Homo sapiens: one gene and its partners. The protein of the gene in region 4 purifies or fractionates together with the protein of the main gene of each other region. This does not show direct contact. Each region holds a gene or a part of one and is shown on either strand. Other genes may lie near its edges.

Region 1 (2,804 bases), on a different chromosome or scaffold from region 4:
CCCATTTCAACTTTCATACCCATTTCGGTTGAGTTTATTTATTGATTTATTTTCAGGCAGGGTCTCGATCTGTTGCTCAGACTGGAGTTCAGTGACGTGATCTCAGTTCACTGCAGCCTCCACCTCCCCGGCTCAAGCAATCCTCCCACTTCATCCTTCCAAGTAGCTTCAACTACAGGTGCATGCCACCACACCTGTTTTTTTTTTTTTTGTAATTTTTTTGTAGAGATGGGGCTTTGTCATGTGGCCCAGGCTGGTCTCGAATTCCTGGGCTCAAGCGATTCTCTCACCTCTGCCTCCCAAATTGCTGGGGGATTATAGGCATGAGTCACCGCGGCCAGCCTAGGGTGAGTTTAATAAGATTTGGTTGTGCCGCCGGGCCAGTGGCTCACGCCTGTAATCCCAGCACTTTGGGAGGCTGAGATAGGCGGATCACCTGAGGTCAGGAGTTCAAGACCAGCCTGGCCAACATGGTGAAACCCAGTCACTACTAAAAATACAAAAAAAAAAAAAGTTAGCTGTGCGTGGTGGCAGGCGTCTGTAATTCCAGCTACTCGGGAGGCGGAGGCAGGAGAATCGCTTGAACCTGGTAGGCAGAGTTTGCAGTGAGCCAAGATCAAGCCATTGCACTCCAGTCTGGGTGACAGAGCGAAATTCCGTCTCAAAAAAAAAAAAAAAATATTAGGTTATGCTGGGGAGATGGGAAAAGGCAGGTTAGGGGCATGCAGGCTCAGGGAACAGGGTCTTGGTGGGTGGATGGATAGCCATGGAGGCAGAAAGAGGCCTCTGCAGGAAGAGCCTGGGAGAGCGGAGAGGAGGTGGTGAGGCAGGGGAGCACTATGGAATGGCCCTGAGGCCAGGAGGGGCTCAGGATGACCAGGCAAAAGCACAGCTGGTCCAGGATGGAGGGGAGGCCTGCACAACATGAGCAGGAGGCTAGAGGAGACAGACCATGAGGCCCGGGGAGACCCCTCACTCGAGAATCTCCTGCAGCTTGCTGTCCAGGAATAGAAAGTTGTATTTTAGTCCTTTCCAAGGCTTGAATGGCTCATCATCATTGTACACAAAGTTTTCCCAACAATATTTAAAATCTGAGAAAAAACAAGGAGAAAGCAGTGAGGGCCCAGCAGGCTTCTCTCCCAGCCCTGGGCCCTCCCCTCCAAGCCCAGGTCTCCTGACTGCCAGTTGCAGTGGACACTGGCGCCATCCCTGCAGGCTTCCCGGGACACTGCCCCGCCCCACGGCATTGCAGACACACCTGCCCCTCATGCTGTCCCTCCCGCACCCACTCTCCTCAGCCCCCCAACGTCTCACCTTTGTAGCCCATGATCTCCACGGAGGCCCCTTCCTGACTCAGGCTGCGGAGCCCCTCCTGGTAATCTGTATCCCAGAAGTAGTAGAGGCGGGCGGTGAAGATGGTGAGATTCACGTTGCTGTGCCTGGCCAGGAACTCGGCCACCTCCCCTGCACACTCTGGGCAAGGGCTCCAAGATGTGTACCAGGTGACCTCGTAGTTTGTGTTAGGAGACAGTATGTCGTCACAGAACCAAGAGAGGAAGCACCTTTCTGCATGACAATGGGTCTCAGGATCCACCTGGGGAAGGAGGAGGAGGAGGGCAGGGGAGCTCAGACTAGGAGCAGGAGGAGTGCAGGGGTGGGGCGATGGGAGCAGAGGGCGGGCCTGGAGCCCCAGGGCGTTTCCTTATTTATTTTTGAGACAGGGTCTCTCCTGTTGCCCAGGCTGGGGTGCAGTGGTGCGATCTGGGGCTGACTGCAGCCTTGACCTCCCAGGCTCAAGGAATCTTCCCACCTCAGCCTCCTGATTAGCTGGGACTGCAGGTGCGTGCCACCACGCCTGCCTAATTTTTTTGTAATTTTTGTAGAGACTGGGTTTCACCATGTTGCTCAGGCTGATCTCGAACTCTTGGGCTCAAGCCATCCTCCTGCCTCACCCTCCCAAAACTCTGCGACTATGAGCATAAACCACATGCATGGCCTTATTTTCTTTACTTCTCATTTTTTTGGGTACATACTAGGCCCCAGGGCTTTTTACTCATTGAATTTCCCTTCTTCCATCCTTCTCCTTGCTCTTTATTTTTTCTTTTCTTTTTCTTTCTTTTTTTTTTTTTTTGATACTGAGTCTCGCTCTGTCACCCATGCTGTAGTGCAGTGGCGCGATCTCCGCTCACTGCAAGCTCCGCCTCCGGGGTTCACGCCATTCTCCTGCCTCAGCCTCCCAAGTAGCTGGGACTACAGGCGCCCGCCACCACGCCTGGCTAATTTTTTGTATTTTTAGTAGAGATGGGGTTTCACCGAGTTAGCGAGCATGGTTTCAAGCTCCTGACCTCGTGATCCCCCGCCTTGGCCTCCCAAAGTGCTGAGATTACAGGCGTGAACCACTGCACCTGGCCGTTCCTCTTTATCTTTTTGAGTGACAGAGTCTTGCTCTGTCACCCAGGCTGGGGGGCAGTGGCAAGATCTCGGCTCACTGCAACCTCTGCCTCCTGGGTTCAGGCGATTTTCCTGCCTAAGCCACCCAAGTAGCTGGGACTACAGGGGCACACCCCCACGCCTGGCTAATTTTTGTAGTTTTAGTAGTGATGGGATTTCACCATGTTAGGCAGGCTGGTGTCAAACTCCTGACCTCATGATCCGCCCGCCTCAGCCTCGCTAAGTGCTGGGATTACAGGCGTGAGCCACTGCACTCGGCCCCTTCCTTCTTTATTTTATTGAGTCTTTTCCTGTCTCATCATAGGTCATGTGTGATTTCTGGCATCCTGTTCCCCAGGCATCCGTTAACCGGG
Region 2 (3,500 bases), on a different chromosome or scaffold from region 4:
CCAGCTATTCGGGAGGCTGATACATGAGAATCGCTTGAACTTGGGAGGCGGAGGTTGCAGTGAGCCTAGATCTCACCACTGCACTCCAGCCTGTGTAACACAGTGAGACTCCACCTCAAACAAACAAACAAAAAATAAATAAAAATAAAATGAAAAAAATGAAATAAAAATAAAATGAATAAAGGGGAATGTTTAAAAATCAATTTGGTAAAATAAAAACTTAATTTGTAAAAATTCATCCTAAGAGGGCAGGACGTGGGGGCTCATGCCTGTAATCCCAGCACTTTGGGAGGCCAAGGCAGGCAGATCATGAGGTCAAGAGATGGAAACCATTCTGGCCAATATGGTGAAACCCCCTCTCTACTAAAACTACAAAAATTAGCCGGGCCTGCTGGCACGTGCCTATAGTCCCAGCTACTCAGGAGGCTGAGGCAGGAGAATCACTTGAACCTGGGAGGCAGAGGTTGCAGTGAGCCGAGATTGCGCCTCTGCACTCTGGCCTGGCGACAGAGCAAGAGTCCATCTCAAAAAAAAAAAAAAAAAATTTATCCGGAGGTTTTACACATTAAAACCAATGCTCATGCCCCCTCTTCTCCCACCAAGCTAACACATGGCGCTCAACCTGAAACAGACAGCACTCCCCCAGCTTTCTGCTGAGTTCTCACGGCCCCCTCTCAGGCATGCCTCTGACCGCCCCGCGGGTTTACCACAGTCATCTCCCTAGAAATGTTTTGACACTTAACTCAACATGGGGAAGGGTAGGCCTTTTAGGAACTCACCTGTAAATTTCATTTTCGACCACCTTTCTTCCACATTGCCCATAAGAATTGTTTCCCATGCTGAAGACTAAAAATAACACCACCAATCAAATCAGTTCTGCAGGTTTGTGGGATCCTAGAATGTGAGGACTGGAAGGGGTCTCGCTGGTGGTCCCGTCCTGGTTACTCACCCCCACCCCCCAACTGCCCCTGGGTTTCCTTCTCCAACTTTCTCAGGCTCTGCAGAAACTCACAAGGGGCATGGGGGAATCTAGACCCGCCTTCCCCTCCTGGCCCTAGATCCACTTCTTGGGAATTCCACCTTCTGAGGCTAGAACCGGACTCCCCACACCTGTCACCAGGCTGCCCTTAACACCAATCCCCTCTAGAAAGAGCCCCTAAATGCAGCGCCTCTGCCCTGTCTGGGAAGTGAGGAGCGCCTCTGCCCAGTCGTCAACTGTCTGGGAAGTGGGGAGCACTTCTGCCTGGCCACTGCCCCATCTGGGAAGTGAGAAGCACCTCTGCCCAGCCGCTGTGCAACCTTCCAAGTGTGAAGTGACAGCCTTGTGTGTGATCTTTCCCATCTTCCCCAAGTTTGCATTTTCGACATTAACGTTTACTTTTTAATTAAAAAAAAAAAAAAAGAAAGAGCTCCTAAATGCCACCTCCGCCTTCTCCTACAGAGCACACTCAGCCAGAAAATGAAATTTGAGGCTAGGCACAGTGGCTCATGACTGTAATCTCAGCTTTTTGGGAGGCCAAGGCAGGTGGATCACTTGAGGTCAGGAGTTCGAGGCCAGACTGGCAAACATGGTGAAACCCTGTCTCTACTAAAAATACAAAAATTAGCCAAGCACAGTGGTGGGTGCCTGTAGTCCCAGCTACTCGGGAAACTGAGGCAGGAGAATCACCTGAACCCAGGAGGTAGAGGCTGCAGTGAGCTGAGATCGTGCCACTGCACTCCAGCCTGGGTGGCAGAGCAAGACTCCGTCTCAGATAAAAAAAAAGAAAAATGAAATGTGAAAAATGTGATCACATTGACCTTTCCCTGGAAAAACCCCGTTTCTAAAAAGAGGCCATGTTACCCAGGGGCCCGGACTCTGAAAGCCCCCAACTACTTAGAGTATGTGTTAGCAAATAGGCTTCTTTCAATTCCAATAGAAAAAGCCACTTCCGGCCGGGCATAGTGGGTCACGTCTATAATCCCAGCACTTTGGGAGACCGAGGTGGGCGGATCACCTGAGGTCAGGTGTTCAAGACCAGCCTGGCCAATGTGGTGAAACCCCGTCTCTACAAAAAATACAAAAATTAGCCAGGCGTGGTGGCAGGCACCTGTAATCCCAGCTACTCGGGAGGCTGAGGCAGGAGAATTGCTTGAACCTGGGAGGCAGAGGTTGCAGTGAGCCAAAATCACACCAGTGCACTCCAGCCTGGGCAGCACAGCGAGACTCTGTCTCAAAAAAAAAAAAAAGAAAAAGCCACGTCTACACACCACCCAGCTCAGGGACTTCATAGCAAATGGATCAGGCTGCCTTGTGTGCAGTTACATTTATAAATACATGTGATTTTCCAAGAACCAGAGAGCAGAGCACATAAGAATCAACAAGGTGGCCAGGTGCAGTGGCTCACGCCTGTAATCCCAGCACTTTGGGAGGCTAAGGCGGGCGGATCACGAGGTCAGGAGATTGAGACCATCCTGGCTAACATGGTGAAACCCCGTCTCTACTAAAAATACAAAAAATTAGCTGGATGTGGTGGCGGGCACCTGTAGTCCCAGCTACTACTCAGGAGGCTGAGGCAGGAGAATGGCGTGAACCCAGGAGGTGGAGCTTGCAGTGAGCCGAGATTACACCACTGCACTCCAGCCTGGGCGACAGAGCGAGACTTCATCTCAAAAAAATAATAAATAAATAAAAATAAATAAAGAATCAACAAGGTTTGTCCAGCTGTCTTGAGCAATCCCACTGATCTGCTCAGGAAATACCACATTTCACTCATTAGATGTGGCTCAATCGATCAAGCCACTCAGGCCTGATTTGAGGCTCCAGTTCACAGTGAAATGGTCCCTGCACTCTTCCATCACCCTTCAATAGGTCAACTCACCTCCTTCCCTGTCAGTCAACACAAGAGAGTGAGCTCGGCCGCAGGAGACCTGCAGCACCCGTGTCTCCTGAGGTCTGTCCAGAGGCAGGGAGACGGGTGAGGGCTCCAACACATACTCGTAGCCCCTCGCTGGAAAAGACACAGGACACTGATTGAGGCATGCATTTCTACCACTGGAAATCATACTGTCCAACTCCACGCTACTACACTGGAAAAAAGAGAGTCGGAGGTAGGAAAGACTCATCAAGACAGGTAAGTTAGGCGCAGAGCAAGGACCAGAAGCCCAACTCCCAGCCCATGGCATGGGCTGTCTCTATTACATAATGCGGGTTCCAGAAAAGCATACTTGGTCTTCTGGCTGGGCGCAGTGGCTCATGCCTGTAATCCCAGCACTTTGGGAGGCCGAAGCGGGCAGATCACCTGAGGTCAGGAGTTCGAGACTAGCCTGGCCAAAATGGTGAACCCCATCTCTATTTAAAATACAAAAATTAGCCGGGCATGGTGGCGGGCGCCTCTAATCCCAGCTACTCGGGAGGCTGAGGCAGAAGAACTGCTTGAACCCGGAAGGCGGAGGTTGCAGTGAGCTGAGATTGCGCCATTGCACTTCAGCCTGGGGGACAAGAGCGAGACTTCATCTGG
Region 3 (4,206 bases), on a different chromosome or scaffold from region 4:
GGTTGCTCAAGCCTGTAATCCCAGCACTTTGGGAGGCCAAGGTGGGCAGATCACGAGGTCAGGAGATCGAGACCATCCTAGCTAACACGGTGAAACCCCGTCTCTACTAAAAATACAAAAAATTAGCCAGGTGTGGTGGCGGGCACCCGTAGCCCCAGCTACTCCAGAGGCTGAGGCAGAAGAATGGCGTGAACCCGGGAGGCGGAGCTTGCAGTGAGCTGAGGTCGGGCCACTGCACTCCAGCCTGGGTGACAAAGCGAAACGCTGTCTCAAAAAAAAAAAAAAAAAAAAAAAAAAAAGGCCGGGTGCGGTGGCTCACACCTGTAATCCCAACACTTTGGGAGGCTGAGGTGGGCGGATCCGGATCACGAGGTCAGGAGATAGAGACCATCCTGGCTAACATGGTGAAACCCCGTCTCTATTAAAAATACAAAAAATTAGCCGGGCATGGTGGTGGGCACCTGTAGTCCCAGCTACTCAGGAGGCTGAGGCAGGAGAATGGCATGAACCCGGGAGGTGGAGCTTGCAGTGAGCCGAGATCGCGCCACTGCACTCCAGCCTGGGCGACAGAGGGAGACTCTGTCTCAAAAAAAAAAAAAAAAAAAAAAAAATTAGCTGAGCATGGTGGTGTACACCTGTAATCCCCGCTGCTCATGAGGCTGAGTGAAAAGAATCACTTGAACCCAGGAGTTCAAGGATTTAGTAAACTATGACTGCACCATTGCACTCTAGCCTGGGTGACAAAGTGAGACCCTGTCTCTAAACAAAAACAAAGCCTAGGTTCCAGTCATTCATTCAAGCCATCAGTATGACATTAAAGTCTCTATTATATACCAGACATGAGGCTTCCATTTCCTCATCTGTTGCATCTGCCAGGATTATCTCGTGATATTGTGAAGATCAAATGAAATTGTGTAAATGAAAATTTATTAACTATAGAACAATATCAATATTATTATTTGCATCATCCTTCATTCCTTACAAAATATTCCTGTTTACATTATTCCCTATAGTCTCTACAATTCCATGTGGTGGGCATCATCTGCATTTTACAGATAGGAAACAGAAGCAGTAAAGTTAAATAACTTGCCCAAGGTCATAACAAGAGACAGAACTGTCTGACAAATCCCATGACCTTCCTTATAAATGTAAAGTATTAACTAACACTTTGAGACAGACTTACATTTGGCAAATAATGACGAGGTTAGCTGACTAAAGCAACTAAGGAGTCGGGAAGAGAACAGTGGCATCAGACGTCGAGAGGCCTTATATACCCATGTCAGATGCTGGCCTTAATGACAGATTTCCATGGGCTCTTTTCCAGGAGTTCCAGACCAGCCTGAGCAATATGGTGAAACATGGAGAACCGAATGGTTGGAAATAGTATTCCTTGAAAAATAATCCCTCCCTTTTAGCCCTTCTTGGAACCAAGGCAAATCAAGGAGTGTAGTCACCAGTGTGACCATCTTTAACAATGGAATTTTGAAACTTTCTGATTTTTTTTTCTATTATCTTGGCACCATATTTGGCCAAATTCTTACAAACTGGCTAAGGTGAACAAGTGAATTGTTTCATAAAGGATGAAGTGAGGCGTGGGCCCTCACACATTCAAGGGCAGCCCCAAGGTAACCACAGGTAGACCCATGAGCTGCAACGACCATGCTGACCTATGAATCATGGAAATATAGTTGCCACAATTAATGCCTAAAACAAAATTTTAATATAAATTGCTAAAATGAGTCATTAATCTAAGCAGCATGATACAATTGAAAGAGCACAAATGAAATCTGTTAAATCTGTTAAGGGAACGGGAGAAAGCCCAGGAACACATTTATAGTGGTTCATACGGTTTTATGACAGTCACTTAAATAAGGTTTTGGAAACGAAAATGTTGTTAATTATTGCAGGGCGCGGTGGCTCATGCCTGTAATCCCGGCACTTTGGGAGGCCGAGGCGGGCAGATCACGTGGTCAGGAATTCGAGACCAGCCTGGCCAACACAGTGAAACCCCGTCTCTACTAAAAATACAAAAATTAGCCCGGCATGGTGTCCCGCGCCTGTAGTCCCAGCTACTGAGGAGGCTGAGGCAGGAGAATCGCTTGAACCCGGAAGGCGAAGGTTGTGGTGAGCCGGGATCGCACCACTGCACTCCAGCCTGGGCAACAGAGCGAAATCCGTCAAAAAAAAAAAAAAAAAAAAAAGAAAGAAAAGAACAAAAACCTAGTTTATTACTGCTGTTTCCTTATTACCAGGTAGCTTCACATCCTCATCAGTTCAGCAAGTCAAAACTGCATTCTTAGAAAAAATTCTGGAAGTTGATAACTGAATGCAAATATAAAATGACCTGCCCAAGGTCACACAGTTAATCGGGACCGTATCCTGGTGTCGTGATTCCCATCGCAGAGCTCTCCCTTTTCCAGAAACTGGGTGGAGAGAGTGGCATGTGGTGTGGGCGTGGCACGGGTCGGCTCGGCAGAGTTCGCCCCGGGTGGAAAGGAATCTGCTCAGCCCCTTCAACGCCAGGCAGCCGCATGTGCTGCTGGGAAGGACCTTGGGCGCCCCAGTGTCTCATCCCCGGATGTCCGCGCGCCGCCACCTCCCCGCTCTGCACCCTCCGCCATCTCCCCTCTCTGCACCGTCCGCCATCTCCCCGCGCCCCGCGTGCGTGGAATCTACGTTACCTTTTCCAAGGTTCCGCTCATCCTTTGCTGCTGCGCGGCCTCTAGCTGTGCAAACCGAAGACCGGACCCTGCAGCCGCGTTCCCAGGGCGTCTGAAAACACTGAAGGAACGGCCTTGACCAGGTGCAGCAGCAATATCCCACCGAGACTCACTCAACTTCCACATCATTTTAGTTCCGGAAGCTTCTGAAATTCAGAGTCTAGAAATTCTCCTGCTTTCCACCCTCACTCAGGTTGTCACATTCACTGCTGTTTCTCCAGAAAGAATTAATTACCATCTCTGTGTTACCCCAGTACTTAGCACACAATTCTAATTTTTCGCTTACAATATTATACACTAATGATTTGTTACCACCTCTTCTCTGTATTTGAAAGTTCTTAAAAGACTGAGATCCTGTCTGATTAATTCCTTTCAGCGTCTAGCACAGATCTGACTTTTTTGTTTGTTTGAGACGGAGTCTCGCTCTGTTGCGCAGGCTGGAGTGTAGTGGCACGATCTCAGCTCACTGCCACCTCCGCCTCTCGGGTTCAAGCAATTCTGTCTCCAAGTAGCTGGGATTACAGGTGCCCGCCACCACGCCCGCCTAATTTTTATATTTTTACTAGAGATGAGGTTTCTCCATGTTTGTCAGGCTGGTCTTGAACTCCCGACCTCAGGTGATCCGCCCGCCTCGGCCTCCTAAAGTGCTGGGATTACAAGCGTGAGCCACCAGGCCCAGCCAATCATCTCTTAAATTGAGTTTAGAAGTCAGATTTCCACGTCCTGTGCTAGATGCTGGAATAAATTAGTCAGGATCTCAGTCCTTGAGGAACTCAATCAAAATAATAGCAAAAAATAATTAGTATCTAGTAACAAATAATTAGTATCTAGTATGGTAAGTGAAATACCAGAATTGTGTGCAAAGTACTGAGGTAACACAGATACGACAATTAATTATGCTTGGAAATATAATGGACCAGGCATACCTCCTCCAGTACAGTGATTGATTATTGCCTAATAAATGCTATTGGGGTTTTAGAAGTGAAATTTTAAATAAGAAAAAAAAAATCAATCAAATGCTAGTATGTGCCAGGTCGGTTCTTTATGGGTGTATGGGTTCATTTAGTCTTTCCAATAACCCTATGAGGCTGAGGATCATTATACCCATTTCACAGATGAGGAACAGAGACAGGAAGAAGGTACCTAGTTAACATAATGTTATATAAGTGGTGAGCTGTTTCATTTCCGTGCCTGTGCTTCATCTATTTTATGGGACTGTGACTATAGGTTTGCAAAAGGGCAGGTTGGCAGCCAGAGAGTTTCTTTCCTTGTCTAGTCCAGGTAAATACAATCTAATAAGATACATGGCCGGGTGCGGTGGCTCATGCCTGTAATCCCAGCACTTTGGGAGGCCAAGGCAGGCGGATCACAAGGTCGGGAGTTTGAGACCAGCCTGACCAAAACTGTGAAACTCCGTCTCTACTAAAAATACAAAAATTAGCTGGGCGTAGTGGTGCATGCCTGTAATCCCAGCTACTCAGGAGCC
Region 4 (3,500 bases):
CCTGGCCCTCCATTCAGATCAGCATAAGTCAGCCATAAAAGGGACAAAAAACAGTTATCAGGTGCTCCTGGCAGTAGCATATGGCATTTGAACTTGTCTCTGACTATAGTGACTCTCCTTAGATTGGTAAAGTAGCATATCTTCTTCCCTAATAAAATAAAACAGTCACTTTTGGCAATAAACTCTGACCCTAGCTTACCTTTAATACCCAAGCATCTTTGGTTTCCCTCTATTACCTTGTTCCCTCCTTTTCTCCAAAGAAACTCCCTCCTATTGTTTTCCTCAACATTACTGTTCAGCATAATTCCTGATACAAAGAAATCATTCCTATAAATAGTGATTCTATGAATGACTGAATGAATGAAACCATCTTAGCTCTTTCTCATATTCCCAAAATCGTTTCTTTACATTGAATGTTCCTTGTTTGCAAGATGGAGCTACCATTCTTTCCTTACCTTCAAGATCCTCTTTAAATTACTCTAATCCAGGATCCCAACCTAGGCACTATAAACCATCTGGACAGGATAATTATTTGTTGTGGGCACTGTCCTTGTTCACTGTAGGATGTTTAGTAGCATCCTTAGCCTCTATCTCCCAGATTCTAGTAATGCCCATTCCCCAGATGTGATCACCAAAAAATATTCCCAGACATTGCCAAATGCTCCCTGGTGCTGGTAGGAATCTCCCCCTGGGAGAACCGCTGTTTTAATTCATTACATTATTATATGGCAAAATTAAAATGATAAAATGACTCCCAGAAAATTGCAATAAACAATGTGAGGGTTTTTAAAATTATACATACCAGAATTCATAGATATATATTTACTAATTATGCTTCTTTTTTTATACAGGCATATCTTCAAAAGTTCTCAACTAACACTGACTGTCTAGGGTTGAGTCCCTGCTGTGCCTCTTACTGGCTATGTGACCTTTAAGTGGTGCCTTAACCTCTCTGAGAAGCAGCATTCTCATTAATACGAAGGAGATAATAACGGTACTCTCTTAAGTTAGAAGATTTTTTCAAAAAGTTGAGTTAATGCAAACAAAATGGTTCCTAGAAATTAATAAGTGTACAATATTAGCAAAAATAACAATAATATGAATATTCATGGTTTGTATCTGTCTTGTAGTAATATCAACCTATATAACTGTCCCAGATTTTCTCAGTTGTGACCCCAAATGCTACCCAAAAACAAAATAAGCACATTCATCAAGATTCCAGTGGGGAAACTTTGGGCTGGGTTCTCATCTGAAGATGAAGAGTCTTTAGCTATTTTATCAGATTTGGGAGGTATGTCTTTGTCAAACAGCACATTTTTGGCACATTAGCAAGTAAGTATTCAGATGAGGTCAAACTATAATACATTTTGTGCCATGGCATAAAGGTAAGGAATAATATAATCTGAGGGAAAAAAATGTACTTTGTGTCTCTACAGTTTCATTCTAAAAAAAAAAACCTCAAGAAACATATTCAACATGAAAATAGTATGTCTTTTCATCCCAAAACTTCTGCTGCTGACCAAATTGACAGGCCTAGTGGGTCTGGGTAAATAATGAGATGTCCTGGAAATAGAACTGACTGTGGCCTTAATCACAGACAGCTAAACTTTGTATGTAGAATCCTGCAGTGGCTTCCCACCAAACTTATTACAAAGTCCTGAAAGCTCCACATGATTTTTTATCAGACTTTTTCTCCAATCACTTCTTAGACCAGACACTGTGGTACTCCCAACTTTTCACCCTTCCCATTCTCAGCCCCACTCTACTCGGCTGGCTCTAATCCATCCTTCTGATTTCAAATTAAGTATCATCCTACAACACTCTGGTATTTTCCTTCACAGCTTTCAGTGTATTGGGTCTTATTTAATTATTTTTGGCTTATTTAATGCCTGCCTCTAACAGTAATCTGTGTTTCCTGAGAGCAGGGAATGTGTCAAACCATACATGAGTATGTCATGTATGTAGCCTAGTGCCTGATATACAGTAGGTGCTTGAGAAATATTTAGGTTACTATATATATAATAAAAAATGGAATAAAGACAGCACTTAGCATTTAGAGAAAGAAGGCCAAGTTTTAGCAGTACCCAGCTTCATTTCTTGCAATAGTAATCTGTTTTACACCTTCCAGGATTTTAAATTTGGTCAGTCCCTATTTCCCACTGTCTATAAGACAATGTGCTTTAGATTCAGTATATCACATGCAACCCATTGCACCTATTCTCTCATTCCCAATTCCCCACACCAGCCACCCAATACAATTACCCCATATCTTTCAATGTTGCTGTTGTTCTGCCAGTCTCCATGCTAGAAAACTTGGTGTTAGCTTTATCTGCTTCTTAATTCTAAATCTCAGAATACAGTCAGCCACCAAAATCTCAAACAGCCTCCTGGAAACCTCCTTTTCTCTGAATTCCCATTGTTTCCCTCAGCCAGAGACTGTACCATCTCATATGCAGCGAGCTTCAAGCTTTCTATCATGTTTCACCTTTTATGCCCCTTATTTTTGGGAAGGCAGGGTAGGTTGGGAATAAGAAAATTGTCCAGACTGGGCACTATGGTTCACGCCTGTAATCCTAGCACTTTGGGAGGCTGAGATGGGTGGACTGCTTGAGCCCAGGAGCTCGAGACCAGTCTGGACAACATGGCAAAACCCCATCTCTATAAAAAATACACAAAAATTAGCTGGGTGTGGTACCATGTGCCTGTGGTCTCTGCTATCCAGGAGGCCGAGGTGGGAGGTTCACTTGAACCCTAGAGGCTGAGGCTGCAGTGAGCCATGATGGCGCCACTGCACTCTAGCCTGGGCAACAGAGCAAGACCCAGTCTCAGAAAAAATAAAAAGTAAAAATAACAAAGAAAGAAAATTGTGCAACGCAAACACACATTGACCAACAGTTGAGAAATGCACAAGTGAAAGAATAGACATGACAGGAGCAAAACCCAGAGCCTCCAGATTTCTTCTTTGAAATAAACGTTTTTTGGCTGGGCGCGGTGGCTCACGCCTGTAGTCCCAGCAGTTTGGGAGGCTGAGGAGGGCGGATCACAAGGTCGGGAGATCAAGACCATCCTGGCCAACATAGTGAAACCCCATCTCTACTAAAAATACAAAAATTAGCTGGGCATGGTGGTATGTGCCTATAATCCCAGCTACTCAGGAGGCTGAGGCAGAAGAATCACTTGAACCCGAGAGTCAGAGGTTGCAGTGAGCCGAGATTGCGCCACTGTACTCCAGCCAGGCGACAGAGTGAGACTCTGTCAAAAAAAAAAAAGAAAAGGAAAAAGAAAGAAAGAAACATTTTTCTCAACTATTCTTTAGTATTGCTTTAGTATCAACATTTTTCACATAGAATTTTAAAATGAATTTTAAAATGAATTATACAGGATAAAACCTTCTTTTCCTGGTATTTGGATTAAATAGAATATATTCATTGCCTTTTGAAATTTAATATCTACAGAAAGCTCAAGTTTCTTAGCTAGCATCAAAAACTATGACTTATTTC

Evidence for each region.
Region 1: the proteins of RBMS3 (region 4) and APOBEC3F purify together in Homo sapiens (affinity purification with mass spectrometry; one large-scale study listed by BioGRID and IntAct). This does not show direct contact.
Region 2: the proteins of RBMS3 (region 4) and RCC1L purify together in Homo sapiens (affinity purification with mass spectrometry; one large-scale study listed by BioGRID and IntAct). This does not show direct contact.
Region 3: the proteins of RBMS3 (region 4) and MRPL48 purify together in Homo sapiens (affinity purification with mass spectrometry; one large-scale study listed by BioGRID and IntAct). This does not show direct contact.

Annotation. Positions count from the first base shown.
Region 1 is NC_000022.11:39,050,864-39,053,667, reverse strand, and holds part of APOBEC3F (DNA dC->dU-editing enzyme APOBEC-3F), read right to left. Parts: intron 1,595-2,804; coding exon 1,315-1,594; intron 1,092-1,314; coding exon 973-1,091; 3' UTR 1-972.
Region 2 is NC_000007.14:75,063,803-75,067,302, forward strand, and holds part of RCC1L (RCC1-like G exchanging factor-like protein), read right to left. Parts: intron 2,991-3,500; coding exon 2,862-2,990; intron 847-2,861; coding exon 780-846; intron 1-779. UniProt on the Homo sapiens protein: Guanine nucleotide exchange factor (GEF) for mitochondrial dynamin-related GTPase OPA1. Activates OPA1, by exchanging bound GDP for free GTP, and drives OPA1 and MFN1-dependent mitochondrial fusion. Plays an essential role in mitochondrial ribosome biogenesis.
Region 3 is NC_000011.10:73,786,468-73,790,673, reverse strand, and holds the start of MRPL48 (large ribosomal subunit protein mL48), read right to left. Parts: upstream 2,801-4,206; 5' UTR 2,703-2,800; coding exon 2,682-2,702; intron 1,340-2,681; exon of another isoform or gene 1,184-1,339; intron 1-1,183.
Region 4 is NC_000003.12:29,431,071-29,434,570, reverse strand, and holds part of RBMS3 (RNA-binding motif, single-stranded-interacting protein 3), read right to left. Parts: intron 1-3,500. UniProt on the Homo sapiens protein: Binds poly(A) and poly(U) oligoribonucleotides.